3 separate regions of the Homo sapiens genome follow, and regions 2 and 3 are each linked to region 1. The links come from fine-mapping of genetic effects on gene expression. A gene starts in region 1. Each other region holds a variant in brackets. All regions are shown on one strand. Distances are between the middles of the regions. Region 1 holds the start of ZNF606-AS1 (ZNF606 antisense RNA 1). Region 2 has its middle 4.9 kb from the start of ZNF814. Region 3 overlaps C19orf18 (chromosome 19 open reading frame 18).

Evidence for each region. PIP is the estimated chance that this variant, and not a neighbour inherited with it, causes the effect. A credible set is the group of variants that fine-mapping cannot tell apart.
Region 2: its variant is the best candidate, but not a certain one, in a credible set for the expression of ZNF606-AS1 in minor salivary gland (GTEx, PIP 0.78).
Region 3: its variant is the best candidate, but not a certain one, in a credible set for the expression of ZNF606-AS1 in lung (TOPMed, PIP 0.66).

What each region holds. Positions count from the first base shown.
Region 1 is chr19:58,000,420-58,005,830 of GRCh38, reverse strand. ZNF606-AS1 (ZNF606 antisense RNA 1) reads right to left here and starts at 2,937. Exons shown (of 4, transcript NR_036508.1): 1 at 2,785-2,937; 2 at 2,495-2,620; 3 at 1,131-1,448. It overlaps ZNF606 (zinc finger protein 606), which reads left to right and starts at 3,011. Exons shown (of 7, transcript NM_001348022.3): 1 at 3,011-3,435; 2 at 4,461-4,542; 3 at 5,092-5,148. The coding sequence starts at 4,512. RefSeq lists an enhancer at 2,660-3,079.
Region 2 is chr19:57,891,060-57,896,850 of GRCh38, reverse strand. It overlaps a transcript of ZNF814 not described here. Among named protein-coding and RNA genes, the nearest start is that of ZNF814, 4.9 kb to the right of the region's middle. The variant G/A (reference allele first, on the strand shown) is at 2,267.
Region 3 is chr19:57,960,806-57,966,596 of GRCh38, reverse strand. C19orf18 (chromosome 19 open reading frame 18) reads left to right here. Exons shown (of 6, transcript NM_152474.5): 4 at 1-67; 5 at 5,046-5,206. Among named protein-coding and RNA genes, the nearest start is that of C19orf18, 11 kb to the left of the region's middle. The variant A/G (reference allele first, on the strand shown) is at 3,092.

The sequences.
Region 1 (5,411 bases):
TGCAAGCACATGCAGAATCTCTCCATGAACCTTTTACAATGGCATTGTTGACGAAGAGTCAAACTCTGTAAAATATTTGAAGAGATTTACTCTGAGCCAAATATGGTGACCAGTGGCCCCTGACGCAGCTCTCAGGAGATCCTGAGGACATGCCCAGGGTGGTTAGGGTTCAGCTTGCTTTTATACATCTTAGGGAGACATGAGACATCAATCAATACATATAAGATGTATACTGGTACAGAAAGTTTCCAGGTTATAGGCAGATTTAAAGATTTCTGATTGCCAATTGATTTAAAGAGTTATTGTCAATAGAAAGGAATGTCTGGGGTTGTGGAACTCAAGGTTTTACCAAGCAGATGAAACCTCCGGAGATAACAGACTGTAAATGTTTCTTATCAGACTTAAAGAGTCTGTTCTATCACTAATTCTAGAAGGGAGGAGGGTATAATGAGGCAAGTCCAGCTTCTGCTTCCCATCATGGCCCGAACTCATTTTTCAAATTAACTTTGGAATGCCCTTGGCTGAGAGGAGGGGTCTATTCATATGGTTGGGGGGTGGGGGGCTTAGAATTTTATTTTTTGGTTTACAACATTAATCCATTCATGACAGCAGAGCCTTATGACCTCCATAAATCCCATTAGACCCTGCCTCCCAACACTACTGCACTGGGGAGTAAGTTTCAACATGAATTTTGGAGAGGATAAAAACATTCAAATCATAGCAGGGGTGTTTTTCTTCATCTGGTTTCCTGACACCTTTAGGTCAAAGGTATCTCTCTCATTTGAGTTCCCTCTCAAAAGTGAACAGAGCTACCTCATCTCTCTTTAGAATATGAATTCTAGTCTTATTTTATATGAACATTGAGGTTTGTGTAGCAGGTATTTGGTGATTGCATATCTTAAAACTTGGCTTCTGTACTGTATGAGACTATCAGTTACGATACGAAGAAAATAAAAAGAGAGTAATACAATTGAGAATTAGGGAGATGAGTCACAGCTGGCTGTTACCAGGATGTGACATCTGTGCTGTGATCTGGATGAAAAAAAGAAAACCCTGGGGCTGTACAAGGAAGAAGATTCCAGGAAGAGGAAACAATACGTACAAAGGCCCTGAAGCAGGAATGGACTTACCCTGTTTGAGGAGTGGCTGGGGTCCAGAAATGGGCAGGAATGACAGGAGATGAGCTTGAGGGACTGAGGTGGGGTGTGGGATAGGACAGAGGCCAGTCCTGCTGAGTTTTCTAAGCTGTGAGCTGGAATTTGGATTTTACTTTAATTACTTGGGAAGCCAGTGCAGAATGTGAGGCAAGGACCTGATGTGAGATCCTAAAAGTGCCCTTGGCTGCCTGCTGGAGGATGAGCTGTAGGGGGCTGGAGTGGAAGTGGAGAGACACTCTCTTCTTACTTCTGTCACTCTTCCTTCTCCAGCCTCTCTTTCTCTGCTTGATCCTGAGATGGAAATTGTGGCTGTACCATCCATAGATTGCTTTCCTCTCAGTGCCCACTCTGACTGGGTTCACCTTCCTGCCAGCTGGGGCCTGTCCCAACACCTTGCCCCTTCCACCTTACCTCTCTCATGGTCCTCTCCCTCGAATTCAGCCTGTCCTACTTGAAATTTTCCTCTCCCTTGAATTCAGCCTGTCCTACTTGAACTTTTCCTCTCCCTCTGAAAGGGCTACTCCCCTTTGCCCACCCACAGTGAGTGCCAACACCACCCAACAACAAAAGCCCAACCCACAGGCCAGCTTTTTAAAATGATCCTCCATTACTAGTGGAAATATCTTCAAAATCTCTCTTGCCCACTGCTCACTCAAGTCTAGCTTCCTAAATGGCCATGCTTTCTTTGGTATCACCACCTACAGTCCCTCAGTCCCTTTTTTTGAGACAGAGTCTTGCCCTGCTGCCCAGGCTGGAGTGCAATGGCTTGATCTCGGCTTACTGTAGCCTCCGCTTCCCGGGTTCAAGCGATTCTCCTGCCTCAGCCTCCCAAGTAGCTGGGTACAGGTGCCCTCCACCAAGCCCGGCTAATTTTTGGTATTTTTAGTAGAGACGAGGTTTTATCATGTTGCCCAGACTGGTCTCGGAACTCCTGACCTCAGGCGATCCACCTGCCTTGGCCTCCCAAAGTGCTGGGATTACAGCTGTGAGCCACCGCGCCCGGCCCGTTTTTGTTTGTTTTAATGCCGGGTCTTGCTCTGTTGCCCAGGCTGAAGTGCAGTGGTGCGATCATAGCTCACTGCAACCTTGACCTCCCAGGCTCAAGCAATCCTTCCACCGCAACCTCCTAAGTAGCGGGGACTACAGGCGCGCGCCATCACACCGGGCTAATTTTTGTATTTTTTTTGTAGAGATGTGGTCTCGCTATGTTGCCCAGGGTGGTGTCGAACTCCTGAACTCAACTGATCCTCCCGCCACAGCTTCCCGAAGTGCTGGGACTACAGGAATGAGCCACCGCTCCCGAACCGCTCCATGCATATCGATAGAGGAAAACTCACAGGGTGCGTCGCTGGTAACCCATGCTCCCATAAAGCCTGGCCTCTGGAAAGAGACTTGGGAACGAGCCCTGACGTTCTCAGCCGTCGAGCTTCACAGAGAAGGGTAGCTCGAATTAGGTTCCTTATCTTAAAGAGAATAACAGCAGTCACTTTCTCACAATCTTGCGAACGCCAAATGGAAGGATCCCTCGAGAGCGCTGAGAACTCGCCGAGCTCCTCCCGGGAAACCCGGTACCACGAGGCGCCATTTTGCGGATGGGCAAACCGAGGCCCGCGGGGCCGCGACTTACCCAGGCCTTTTTGCAGTGGGAGGCGACGGTGGAGGAGGGTGGTCTGGGACCGGGACAACAAAGTCCATCCTGCCGCCGGCTTCGACGCAGGTGCCAGAAAGGTCCCAACCCCGCCCAGGCAGGGCGAGGCGGCGCGGCCCAGGAACCTGTCATGGCGGCGCCGCTGCCCGACGCCGGAAGTGCCCGCCTGGAACTACAGCTCCCAGCAGACCCCGCGGCGCGCTCCGGTCGACGCCGGGGAAGCAGCCGCCATTGTCCGCGGCTGAGGTGAGGCCTTTGCTCAGGCTGTGGGGCCGCCGTAGCTGCGGGGCTTGGGGGGTCAGGAGAGCCGGCTGGGAGAGGCGGCGTCAGGGTGGGTCCTGCGCCTGCCCTTTCCGCGCCGGCTTTGCGCCGTCGTTGCCGTCGGTTCTCCAGCCAGCAGCCTGCCTCCGGCCTCCCGCCTCCGGGCGTTCTTCGTTTTCTGGTCGGACGGGCCTGGGTGAACTCTGCTGCACGTCGGCTCCGCGGGCCTTTGTCCCCGAGGCCGCGCCGGGAGCTCCCAAGCGCACTCCTGGGCCGGACCTCGGCGCGGGACAAAAGCCAAACGCCCCAGGCGGGCAGACCCCGATCCTGCTGCGCCGCCTTCAAGGGGGACCGCCGGCCGCGAGCCAGGTGAGGCCGGGACGAGCTTTTGCAGCGTCGCGGCCGCGTCGGTCTTGAGGAGGAAATTTGGGTCGGGAGCTCTGGAAGCAGGTGATAAGGATGCTTCTGAGGCCATTGATGGGACGAATAACCCCGTTCGTTCCCCAGCCGTCGTTTCTCCCCCTGCCAGTTCACACAAAGCACTGTGAAGGACGTCAGACCTGGGTTGGAAACAGCTCCGGGTTCCCTTAAACATGCAGTGACGGCGGCGGTCACTGTCAAGTTGCAAATAATGGTGCAAAGTACGGTTTGCATTCTGCGTTTTCGCGCTGATTCCGGTGCTCCTGAGGCCCACTGTGTGTTCTAGTGCTTTATACACATACCCAGGAATCCATTCGAGAGGTTGCTGACTTGTACAAAGATCTGGAACCTGAGGAGTTAGGGGTCTGGGCGCCAGGCCCATCTCTAAGTCCTCCACACACACACAAGCTTAGGCTTAGTAAATCTTGGAGGTGAATTTTTTTTGGAGGTGGGATTAAATTTGCATAACATAATGTTCACTTTAAGCACTTAAAAGTGTGCAATTCACCGGTTTTATTGTATATTAATAAAGTTGTGCAATCATCCCCATTATCTAATTTTAGAACATTTCATCACCCCACAAAGAAACCCTTGTTCCCCTTAAGCAGTCACTCCCCATTTCATTTTTCCCCCAGCTCTAGGCAACCACTAATATATGAGGATTGCAAGTTGATTTTACAATAATTGTCAGATTAATCCAAAAGTTCCATCTGTGTTGTGACTGGCTGTCTCTTGGGAATAGCTGACAAATTTGTACCCTCTCATTCAGGATCATGCTCTTTTTTCCAGCTTATGCAAATTACCTTTCATTTCTCTCCAGGAATTGTGTTACTTTTTTGACATGTAAATTCTCTTTTCTTACGATGCTCCTTACAAGTTTTTTTGTTGCTTCGGTGGATGGATTCCCTTCTTTGTTCCCACTTGGTCTTCTGTGAGAAAGGACTAGTTTTGTCTTTTTTCACTTTTGTCACTAGGTTGGGATTTGCTGTGTTCCTGGGCAGGTGCCTGGTCAATCAGTCCTCGGGATGGCAGCCATCAACCCGTGGGCCTCCTGGGGTGAGTCCAAGTTGTGTTTCTCCTGGGCCTCCCCTATCATTAGCTGCTGCAGTCATGGGTCAGAGCTGGTGATGGGCTGAGGACTTTTGAGGATGGAAGGGGGTCTGTCTATCTTGGTACAAAATTAGAACTGATTGGTGGTAAAGGAGGAAAATTGTTGGCATAAAAGACACTAACTTTTATGTTTTATAGTCATCTCCTGAGAGGTGTCATTAGTTTTAAGGGATTTTTCTGGTGGTTTGTGGGGTTTCCTAAACAACAGTGATACATATAATAAAATATTGTCTCTACTGCTCTCATATATATTTTTACCTTTATTGTTTTTACTTATATAGCATTGGTTGGTAATTTTAAAACGGTGTTAATTAATAGTGACTCACCTGTGCATTGCCTGTGTGAATCCAGCTTATGTTGCATTTTTTTTACACACCCTTGGGCTCTGTTTATGGAATTTTGTAGTGCCCATTAGCGAGTCAGCCTCCTCTTGTATTTTGTCGCCTTGAATCACTAGGTTTGGTGTCACAGTCCTAACCTGATCCTTCTGTGCAGGTGCCCTTACGGACCAATCTTGGGGGATGACAGCTGTTGACCCATGGGCCTCCTGGGGTGAGTCAAGAGCCTGGTCAGCTGTGGGCTGCCATATTGTGGCCTCTGGCTGTAGTGCTCTGCCACAGCTGGGGAATAGAATGGGGACCAGGTGGGGCTTTAGGGCAGGTGGTCCAGATCTGTCTCTGTGCAGAGCTGGAACAAGGAGGAATCAGAAAACTAGTGGCCAGGCGTGGTGACTCACGCCTACAGCACTTTGGGAGGCCGAGGCGAGTGGATCACGAGGTCAGGAGATCGAGACCATCCTGGCTAACACGGTGAAA
Region 2 (5,791 bases), 110 kb after region 1:
CCACCGGGTTTTAAACTGTAAGTACTGAGATAGAGTGAGAACAGATTTTGTTAAAGTATCCCAGTCATATTTTATCAATCTATTATTCAGAGCCACATTTTTTAGTAAAGTTTGTACAAAAGGAGAATTTGGCCCATATTGACTAATGGCTTGCTTAAATTCCATTAATAGCTTAAAAGAAAATGTGGCCCAACTAGCTATATTTTTCCCTCCTTGCTGGGTGATAGTAACAGGAAATTGCCATGCTTCAAGGTCTCCCTCAGCTCTAGCCTTTTGAATAGAATTTTGTATAGCACCACCAATTGCTCCAGATTTTAATGTTGCAACTACAGGAGCAGTAAATTTTACAGCTAATTCATTTTCTCGCCCATTATGGGGAGGGAAAGGAGGTGGCCATTCACTTAATTCAGCAGGTGGAGCTGATGGGTTAGTAAAACATACCCTTTTCAGTTTCCCTTTCTTAATTTCCTCTGGTTTTTGCTCCTCGCATTCAGAATCTGAAGTTAGTTTTTTACACACTTGTCTTCCTCATCTGAATCTGTCTCGTGATCTGTTTGAAATGGCTCAAGAGCAGCCTTTATCAATGCCCACACCAACCAATCAGAAACTGGAATTTTGGCTCCTTCTTTATAAGCCTTTTTAAAATCTCTGCCAATTCTTTTTTTTTTTTTTTTTTTGAGATGGAGTCTCGCTCACAAAAGTGGCTCGCTCAAAGGCTCTCGTGCCCCTTTTTTCAGGTGCGCTCTCATGGCGACTGGCCAAAGAGGCACCCCTCTGTGCAAACGTAAAATTTCTTTGCTAAAAATCGTTTGTTCGAGTGTTCAATTTCCTTAAAATTTTGAGCGTTATTCCTGACACTATGTATAAACAAGTACCTAGGGTGGACGCATTCCTCCTCTGACTTTCGGGAAGAGCCTGCTCTGTCTATGGAGTGGCTATTCTGTCATCACTTTACTCTCTTAACAAATTTACTTTTCTTTGCACTGTGGACTCACCCTGAATTCTTTCTTGTGTGAGATCCAAAGAACCCTCTCTTGGGGTCTGAATTGGGACGCCCTTTCTGGTAACATCTTTCTGGTGAACCTTGAAGGGATGATACTGAAGAAACCCACCGGCCCAAAGGAAATAGGCTGCAGCACTAATTGGCCGACTTTGGGTAAGTGGTGGGGCACCTGGGTAAAGGATGAGATTGGGTTAGAGGCCCAGCTTAGGGAGTTAGAGTCTCTCCTAAGACAGAGAGGGTTAAAGTTTCCTCTCAATAAAAGGCAAGGACGTGGCCAGGTGCGGTGACTCACACCTGTAATTTCAGCACTTTGGGAGGCCGAGGCGGGCGGATTGCCTGAGACCAGGAGTTCGAGACCAGCCTGGCCAACATGGTGAAAACCCATCTCTACTAAAAATACACAAATCAGCCAGGTGTGGTGGCACACACCTGTAATCCCAGCTACTAGGGAGGCTGAGGCAAGAGAATTGCTTCAACCCAGGAGGCAGAGGTTGCAGTGAGCCGAGATCGCACCACTGCACTCCAGCCTGGGCAACAGAGTGAGACTTCATCTCAAAAAAAAAAAAAAGAAAGAAAAGAAAAGAAAAGGCAAGGAGGCTTGACTGACCCTGGGTTTGAGGCCCAATTTAGGAAGGTTAGAGTCCTTCCTAAGATTTAGTCCTTCCTAAGAGTTAGAGGCCCCTCTCAGTAAAGTCCCTCTTGGCTAAGAACTGGTTTGGCACCACAGGATGTCAACTTTGCATTAATCTGTCTTGTCCTCTTTGCTGTATGAATCAATCTCTTGGTTGCTCTGCTTCACTGTCATTTTCAGGGGACTTCATTTAACTTGTCTTAGGGCTTTTATTATACTCTTCCCCTGTGTGCCTTCTGATTTCCATCCATTTGCTTGTGAAACATTGGGAACAAAAAGCATTGAAGGCTCCGTTTCTAAAATTGCGTATTCAGGTTTGGTATTTAACAGCTATGAGCAATAAGATTAGATAGATGTGGCTATGATTTTTTTTTTTTTTTTCTGAGACGGAGTCTCGCTCTGTTGCCCAGGCTAGAGTGCAGTGGTGCAATCTCGGCTCACTGCAAGCTCCACCTCCCAGGTTCATGCCATTCTCCTGCCTCAGCCTCCCAAGTAGCTGGGACTACAGGCACCCGCCACCACGCCCGGCTAATTTTTTTTTTTGTATTTTTAGTAGAGACGGGGTTTCACCGTGTTAGCCAGGATGGTCTGGATCTCCTGACCTCGTGATCTGCCCGTCTCAGCCTCCCAAA[G/A]TGCTGGGATTACAGGTGTGAGCCACTGCACCCAGCCGGCTATGCTTTTTGCAGCTATGCCAACTAGGTGTGATCAAGAAGCACTAGGATACAAATCAGGGGACTTTTCTCCTTGCTGTTTTGTTTCATTTACAGACTAAAAACAAAATGAAACAAAATAAGAAAACCCACTTCTTTTCTTTCTTTGATTTGGGCAAATCGGCTTCTTTTTTTTTTTTTTGAGATGGAGTCTCACTCTGTTGCCAGGCTGGAGTGCAGTGGCATGATCTCAGCTCCCTGCAACCCCCACCTCCTGGGTTCAAGCAATTCTCCAGCCTCAGCCTCCTGAGCAGCTGGGACTACAGCCACCATGTCCAGCTAATTTTTGTATTTTTAGTAGAGACGGGGTTTCACCATGCTGGCCAGGATAGTCTTGAGCTCTTAACCTCGTGATCCCCTCACTTCAGCCCAAAGTGCTGGGGTTACAGGCATGAGCCACTGCACCTGGACTTTTTTTTTTTTCGAGACAGAGTCTCGCTCTGTCACCCAGGCTGGAGTGCAGTGGCACCATCTCAGCTCACTGTAACCTCCACCTCCTGGGTTCAAGTGATTTCCTGCCTCAGCCTCCCGAGAAGCTGGGATTACAGGTGCACACCAACATGCACGACTAATTTTTTTTTTTTTTTGAGATGGGGTCTCTCTCTGCCACCCACGCTGGAGTGCAATGGTGCAATCTCAGCTCACTACAATCTCCACCTCCCAGGTTTAAGTGATTCTCCTGCCTCAGCCTCCCGAGTAGCTGGGATTACATGCATGCACCACCACACCCGGCTTATTTTTTCAATTTTTAGTAGAGACGGGGTTTTACCATGTTGGCCAGGTTGGTCTCGAACTCCTGGCCTCAAGTGATCTGCCCACCTCGGCCTCCCAAAGAGCTGGGATTACAGGCATGAGCCCCCGCACCCGGCCATGACTAATTTTTTGTATTTTTAGTAGAGATGTTGTTTCACCATGTTGGTCAGGCTGTTGTCGAACTCCTGACCTCAGGTGATCCACCTGCCTCTGCCTCCCAAAGTGCTGGGATTACAGGTGTGAGCCACCACACCCAGCCAACTGACTGGTAGGAAATTCTTGCTGGGTGCAGTGGCTCATGCCTGTAATTCCAGCACTTTGGGGGGCCCAGGCGGGCAGATCACCTGAAGTCAAGAGTTGGAGACCAGCCTGGCCAACATGGTGAAACCTTGTCTGTAGTAAAAATACAAAAATTAACTAGGCATGGTGGTGCGTGCCTGTAATCCCACCTACTCAGGAGGCTGAGGCAAGAGAATCGTTTGAACCCAGGAGGCGGAGGTTGCAGTGAGCCGAAATCACACCACTGCACTCCAGCCTGGGCGACAGTGCAAGACTCCGTCTCCAAAAAAAAAAAAAAAAAAAATCAATAACAAAAAAGAAATTCTTACCCTTTTGCTGGCATTCCAGCATTCCAGGCTTCTGGTTTGCCTTTCCCTGAGAGCCTCTAGTGACCCAGCTGGCTGCACCACACCCTTGGGGGCCAATCTGCAATACAAAGCTAAATTATCTTTTTCCATTCTGGCCAGAGCAAAATACGTGTGACAAAACATACACATTAGCCACTCGGCTCCGCCTGGAATATCTAACAGGCAAGGCTCAAACTTGCCCTGGTTGGGCCCCATCATCTTTAATCCAACCTCCGACCATGAGTTTCAACTTGGTCTCTGGGCAAGATGGTCACCCTGAATAACAGAAAAGATAAGAAAGGGAAAGGAGACAGAGAAAAACATTGCCTGTGGCAGGGTGGGGAAGGCCAGGAGCTTAGAGAGGCCAGAGAAGCCCCCCCCACTCCCATTGCAGTGACACTGAAAAGTTCAGGTGGCTGCTTGTCAGTAGCAAGGGGATCTTTTCCAGCAGTCCCATCAGCTCGCAAGTTTTCCCTTTTGGGGAGGAAAAAGCTCCCCATGTCCCATGATCCTGTACATTCCTAGTCCTGTCACCCATAGCCATCAGCAAGGCAGATTATTCCAAAGAGAACAGCAGTTAACAGCCCATTGTGCCAAACCCATTCCTAGCCAAGAGGGACTTTACTGAGAGGGGCCTCTAACCCCCTAACTCTTAGGAAGTAATCTAATCTTCCTAATTTGGGCATTGAACCAAAGTTTGGTCAAGTGTCCTTGCCTTTTATTGAGAGGAGCCTTTAACCAGGAGAGACTCTAACTCCACCAAGTTGGGCCTGTAAACCAATCTCATTCTTTATCTGGGTATATGCACCCCACTCACTCAAAGTGAGCCAAGTGGTGCACACAGATGATTTTCCTCTGGGTTGGGGGTTTCTTCAGTGTCAATGAAAAGAGTCAAACTCTGTAGACTATGTGAAGAGATTTATTCTGAGCCAAATATGAGTGACCATGGCCTGTGACACAGCCCTCAAGAGGTCCTGAGAACATGTGCCCAGGGTGGTCAGGGCGCAGCTTGGTTTTATACATTTTAAGGAGGCAAGAGACATCAATCAAATACATTAAAGAAATACATTGGTCTGGGCCGGGTGCAGTGGCTCACGCCTGTAATCCCAACACTTTGGGAGGCTGAGGTGGGCAGATCACAAGGTTGGGAGCTTGAAACCAGCCTGGCCAACATAGTGAAACCGTGTTTATACTAAAAATACAAAAGTTAGCCGGGCATAGTGGTGCGCACCTGTAGTCCCAGGTACTCAGGATGCTGAGGCAGAAGAATTGCTCGAACCCAGGAGGTGGAGGTTGCAGTGAGCTGAGATCATGCCACTGCACTCCAGCCTGGGTGACAGAGCAAAACTCCTGCTCAAAAAAAAGAAAAGAAAGTAAAGGAATAAAAGAGTGGGTACTCCATAGACAGAGCCGCCCGGCTAATTTTTTCGTATTTTTAGTAGAGATTGGGTTTCACCCTGTTGTTAGCCAGGATGGTCTCCATCTCCTGATCTCATGATCCTCCCACCTTGGTCTCCCAAAGTGCTGGGATTCCAGGGGTGAGCCACCATGCCTGGCATGGCTGCCCATTTTTATGGTTATTTCTTGATTTTTTTTTTTTTTTGAGGCGGAGTCTCACTCTGTCACCCAGGCTGGAGTGCAGTGGTGCAATCTCGGCTCACTGCAAGCTCCACCTCCCGGGTTCACGCCGTTCCCCTACCTCAGCCTCCCAAGTAGCTGGGACTACAGGCACCCGCCACCACGCCCAGCTAATTTTTTGTATTTTTAGTAGAGACAGGATTTCACCGTGTTAGCCAGGATGGTCTCGATCTCCTGACCTTGTGATCCACCCACCTCAGCCTCCCAAAGTGCTGGGATTACAGGCGTGAGCCACCGCGCCTGGCCCCTATTTCTTGATTATATCCTAAACAAAGGGTGGATTATTCATGCCTCCTTTTTTTAGACCATATAGGATAACTTCCTGATGTTGCCATGGCATTTGTAAACTGTCATGGCACTGATGGGAGTGTTGCAGTGAGGACGACCAGAGGTCACTCTCATGGCCATCTTGGTTTTGGTGGGTTTTAGC
Region 3 (5,791 bases), 39 kb after region 1:
TTTTAATTTCGAGCGTAGCCTTCAGCATTGCCCTGATATGTGGGATGGCAATCTCCTATATGATATAGTAAGTATCTGCTAAGTAATATCTGCTGTCCTTAAATGAGACATAACAAGTCAACTGATTATTATTTAATGTCAAAGGATGATGATGATACATCTTATAATTGCTAAAGTATTGGTCATTATAAATTTCCAGATTAGTGTTTTTCAACATGTGGATTGTACTCATGTTGAGGCATGATACACATGAAAAAAAAAGAAAGAAAGACACAGGACAGAATACAATTCAGCAGAATAGAAAATATTAGAAAATATTACGCCGGGCATGGTGGCTCACGCTTGTAATCCCAGCACTTTGGAAGGCCGAGGCGGGTGGATCATGAGGTCAGGAGATCGAGACCATCCTGGCTAACACGGTGAAACCCCGTATCTACTAAAAATACAAAAAATTAGCCGGGCGTGGTGGCGGGTGCCTGTAGTCCCGGCTCCTCGGGAGGCTGAGGCAGGAGAATGGTGTGAACCCGGGAGGCGGAGCTTGCAGTGAGCCGAGATCGTGCCACTGCACTCCAGCCTGAGTGACAGAGTGAGACTCGTCTGAAAAAAAAAAAAAGAAAAAGAAAAGAAAATATTACTTAAAGTATTAATGTAAAAGGCTGATTTTTAAACTTTTCAGATACATGTGAGACATGCACACACACACAGACACACGGTTGTGAAATAAAATATATTTCTTACTGGGAGTCATGATCAAAAATGCTTGAAAGACACAGTTTGAGATGCTAGCATCCTCCCAAAATTCAGTATTTTATTTTATTTTATTTTTTCTACTTTTTTTGGAGGGGAGGGGACGGAGTTTCGCTCTTGTTGCCCAGGCTAGAGTGTAATGGTATGGATCTTGGTTCACTGCAACCTCTGCCTCCTGGGTTCAAGCAATTCTCCTGCCTCAGCCTCCCAAGTAGCTGGGATTACTGCAGGCATACGCCACCATGCCAGGCTAATTTTGTATTTTTAGTAGTGATGGGGTTTCTCCATGTTGGTCAGGCTGGTCTCGAACTCCAGACCTCAGGTGATCCGCCTACCTTGGCCTCCCAGTGCTGGGATTAAAGGTGTGAGCCACCATTCCCAGACCCCAGAATTTGGTATTTTAAAATAAACTTGAGGCCGGGTGTGGTGGCTCATGCCTGTAATCCCAGCACTCTGGGAGGCTGAGGCGGGTACATCACCTGAGGTCAGGAGTTCAAGACTAGCCTGGCCAATATAGTGAAACCCCGTCTCTGCTAAAAATACAAAAATTAGCTGGGCGTAGTGGTGGGCACCTGTAATCCCAGCTACTTGGGAGGCTGGGGCAGGAAAATTGCTTGAACCTGGGAGGCAGAGGTTGCAGTGGGCAGAGATCACGCCATTGCAATTCAGCCTGGGCGACAAGAGCAAAACTCTGTCGCAAATAATAAATAAATAAATAAATAAATAAATAAAATAAAAAGAACTTGCTACTCTGGAAGGAATCTCAATAGTGCACAGCAGAAAAGAGCGACCACTCTCCCTTTCACTAGAAATGTGTCAGTGCAGTCTGGGGTGATAGCAGCTTTGGGGGAAGTTACATCACCGTCTTCGCAAATAAAGCTTGGGGTCAAGCTGTTTTGAGTGATGTAATCATTTTGAAATTCACGGTAGAAAAAGGTGAGACACACTGTGATCTCATGCGGTTCTGACCAAACCAACAGATTCTGACTCCTACTGTATGATTCCGTGCTAGGATTCCATTGTATCCCACCAGAAACAGCTTGAGAAGTACAAAATTGCTTGCTTCGTTGAATTAAGTGTGAAAACAAGATATATTGCCATGTGTGAGATATTTTCTGAGGCAGCTATGTTAAGACCACCTTGGAGTAGGTCACATGAAGGCAAAGTGACATTAAAGGTAAAAGGGGAATTTTGCTAATGAGAGCGTAACCTGCGTGCTTGGTTGTGGGTTATCTCCACTACATCCGCTTAATTTATGTAAATGTATAGGCCGGGGGCATTGGCTCACACTTGTGATCCCAACACTTTGGGAGGCCGAGGCGGGTGGATCCCTTAAGCTCAGGTGTTTGAGACCAGCGTGGGCAACATGGTGAAACCGCGTCTATACAAAAAATACAAAAATTAGCCAGGTGTGGTAGCACGCACCTGTAGTCCCAGCTACTCAAGAGGCTGAGGTGGGAGGATGGCTTGAGCCCTGGAGGTGGAAGTTGTAGTGAGCTGAGATTGCACCACTGCACTTCCTCCTGGGCGACAGAGTGAGACCATGTCTCAAAAACAAAAATTATGTAACTGTAGCTTCTGTATATTTCATTATTATAACAAAACTATTAATAAATATAAAGTTTTGTAATGCAACTCAGTAAAACATATCTCCTGGACACTCAGTGTTGAATTGAGTTGCTGAGCTAGTCAATTCTTATTGTTTTCACATTTGTATTAGCACTAAGCTATAGTGGAGCCTGGGGCCAAAACCAAAACCAAAACGAAAACAAACAAAAAAAACAAAACCACCTGTTCAAAAGTACAAGTTTTATGTAATTTTTAGTGGTTCATTTTTTCCAGAAGTAGATTTTGAAAATACTATTGGTAAGTTTGCTTTTATTTAAACCAGGAAAGTAAAATTACAATTAATTTTGTTTAGGGTAGAGATAAAATATTTATTTTTATTTTTATTTTTTTAGAGACGGAGTCTTGCTCTGTTGCCCAGGCTGGAGTGCAGTGGCGTCATCTCAGCTCACTGCAAGCCCCGCCTCCCAGGTTCACGCCATTCTCCTGCCTCAGCCTCCCAAGTAGCTGGGACTACAGGCACCCGCCACCACGCCCGGCTAATTTTTTTTTGTATTTTTATTAGAGACGGGGTTTCACCATGTTACCCAGGATGGTCTCAATCTCCTGACCTCGTGATCCGCCCGCCTCGGACTCCCAAAGTGCTGGGATTACAGGCGTGAGCCACTGTGCTTGGCCTAGATAAAATATTTAAACTTAATGTTGTGACTTTTCATACACCAGTTTTCAATTATTAAATATATTCTGAACTTCTTAAGTGTTTTGGAAAAGAATAAGC[A/G]TTTAAAAATACATTAAAACGTGTATAGGGACTCACACCTTTCCTTTTGACTCAAGCTCCCCTGTGGTTTAGCACAGCACTGTTTGGATCCTATCTCTGTTTACAATCTTGATATTTGGTATATCCTGGATTTTGTTTTTTTTGCTTCATTTCAATTTTTAAAAATACTGAGTTAAGGACCGGGCGCGGTGGCTCACGCCTGTAATCCCAGCACTTTGGGAGGCCGAGGTGGGCGGGTCACCTGAGGTTGGGAGTTCGAGACCAGCCTGACCAACATGGAGAAACCCCATCTGTACTAAAAATACAAAAAAATTAGCCAGGCATGGTGGCACATGCCTGTAATCCCAGCTACTCGGGAGGCTGAGACAGGAGAATCACTTGAACCTGGGAGGTGGAGGTTGTGGTGAGCCAAGATCGCGCCATTGCACTCCAGCCTGGGCAAAAAGAGTGAAACTCCATCTGCAAAAAAAAAAAAAAAAATTGAGTTAAAATACTCATCTTCATTTTTCACTGTTTGGGGTACCTCCTTACATTTCGCACTGAGGCGAGCACCTCCCTTTTGTCACTCAAATCTTGCTCCTGTCCCAGCCTTTTGAGCAAGAAAAACAAAAAATAAACTAACCCTAAAAGTTTTTTGTTTTTTTTTTTGAGATGGAGTTTCACTCTTGTTGGCCAGGCTGGAGTGCAATGGCACCATCTCAGCTCATTGCAACCTCCGCCTCCCAGGTTCAAGTGATTCTCCTGCCTCAGCCTCCCAAGTAGCTGGGATTACAAGCATGTGCCACCACGCCCTGCTAATTTTGTATTTTTTTAGTACAGACGGGGTTTCTCCATGTTGGTCAGGCTGGCCTCCAACTCCTGACCTCAGGTAATCTGCCCGCCTCGGCCTACCAAAGTGCTGGGATTACTGGCGTGAGCCACCGCGCCTGGCCCCTAAAAGTATTTTTTTAATATATAATTCACACAGTACTGGGAAGGTAAGTATGTTAGGAAAACACTGTCATCCATTTCCACACCAAACAGAAATAGCTGTTCAGTGATCCACTTCCAGGATTGGACCTACAGTGAGGTAGAAAAATCAGTAACACCCATTCTGTCCTATTTTGTTCATCACGGATTTCTTGACATTAATTTTTATTTTGTAAAATATTACACTGAAACATGATTATGGCCGGGCACAGTGGCTCACACCTGTAATTCCAGTGTTTTGGGAGGCCAAGGAGGAAAGACAGCTTGAGCCTAGGAGTTTGAGACCATCCTGGGCAACATAGCAAGACGCAATTTCTAAAAAAAAAAATACAAAAATAATTAGCCGGGCATGGTGCCACGAGCCTGTGGTCCCAGCTACTTAGGAGGCTGAGCAGGTAAGACTGTTTGAACCCAGGAGTTGGCAGCTGCAGTGAACCATGATTGTATCAGTTCACTTCTAGCCTGGGTGACAGAATGAGACCCTGTTCCAAAGAGAGAAAGAGAGAGAGAAAGAGAAAGGGAGAGATACAGAGAGAGAAAGGGAAAGAGAAAGGGAGAGAGAGAGAGAAAGGGAAAGAAAAAGGAAAGAAAAGAAGGGAGGGAGGAAGGAAAGAGAGGAAAGAAGAAAGAAAAAGGAAAAAAAAGAGAAAGAAAAAGAGAAGAGAAAGGAATGGAAAGAAAGATGATTTGTTTGATTATGGATTTTTTGTCAACACCTTAAGTTTGGAACCCAATGTGAGTGCCTTGTTCACGTCTAGTCCTGGCTTTGATCCATGCTTTGGGATGATCGGAGTTACTCCTTACTCCAGGAAATGGCCTGACCATGTAGACAGTTGAGAGCTGACCATGATTAGTCTGGTTTCAAAGTCTTATGTCTGCACCCACTCCACAAGCGACTCCTTTCCTGTCAAAAAGTGGCATGGTTGAGAAATGAATTATTCATCATGAAAACTGTGCTTCTAAATTCATTTATATCATTCTCCAGTCGACTGGCACAGGCTGAGGAAAGACAACAGCTCGAGTCACTTTATAAGAACCTCAGGATACCGTTATTAGGAGATGAAGAAGAGGGCTCAGAGGACGAGGGTGAGTCCACGCACCTACTTCCAGAGAACGAAAATGAGCTGGAAAAGTTCATCCACTCAGGTAGTGTGACCTGTAAGAGCTATTCGCAGGAAAGCCAAGCTGGCAGCGGCAGCTTGCGTTTCTTTTCTTTCTTTCTCAGCGGTGGCTTGCATTTCTTTTCTTTCTTTCTTTCCTTTCTTTCTTTCTTCCTTCCTTTCTTTCTTTCATTTTTTTTTTAAGACGGACTCTTACTCTGTAGCCCAGGCTGGAGTGCAGTGGCGCGATCTCTGCTCACTGCAAGCTCCGCCTCCCAGATTCACGCCATTCTCCTGCCTCAGCCTCCCGAGTAGCTGGGAGTACAGGCGCCCGCCACCATGCCCGGCTAATTTTTTGTATTTTTAGTAGAGACGGGGTTTCACCATTTTAGCCAGGATGGTCTCGGAAGGCAGCTATGCTCACCACTATACCACCAACGCTCGGGTGCCAGGATGGTCTCGATCTCCTGACCTCGTGATCCGCCCGCCTCGGCCTCCCAAAGTGCTGGGATTACAGGCGTGAGCCACCGCGCCTGGCCTGTGGCTTGGTTTTCAAAGGCAAAGATAAGTGGGAGTTAAGGGAGTTTGAAGTAAGAGAGACAAATATTCACAGCCACACTTACGGAAATGA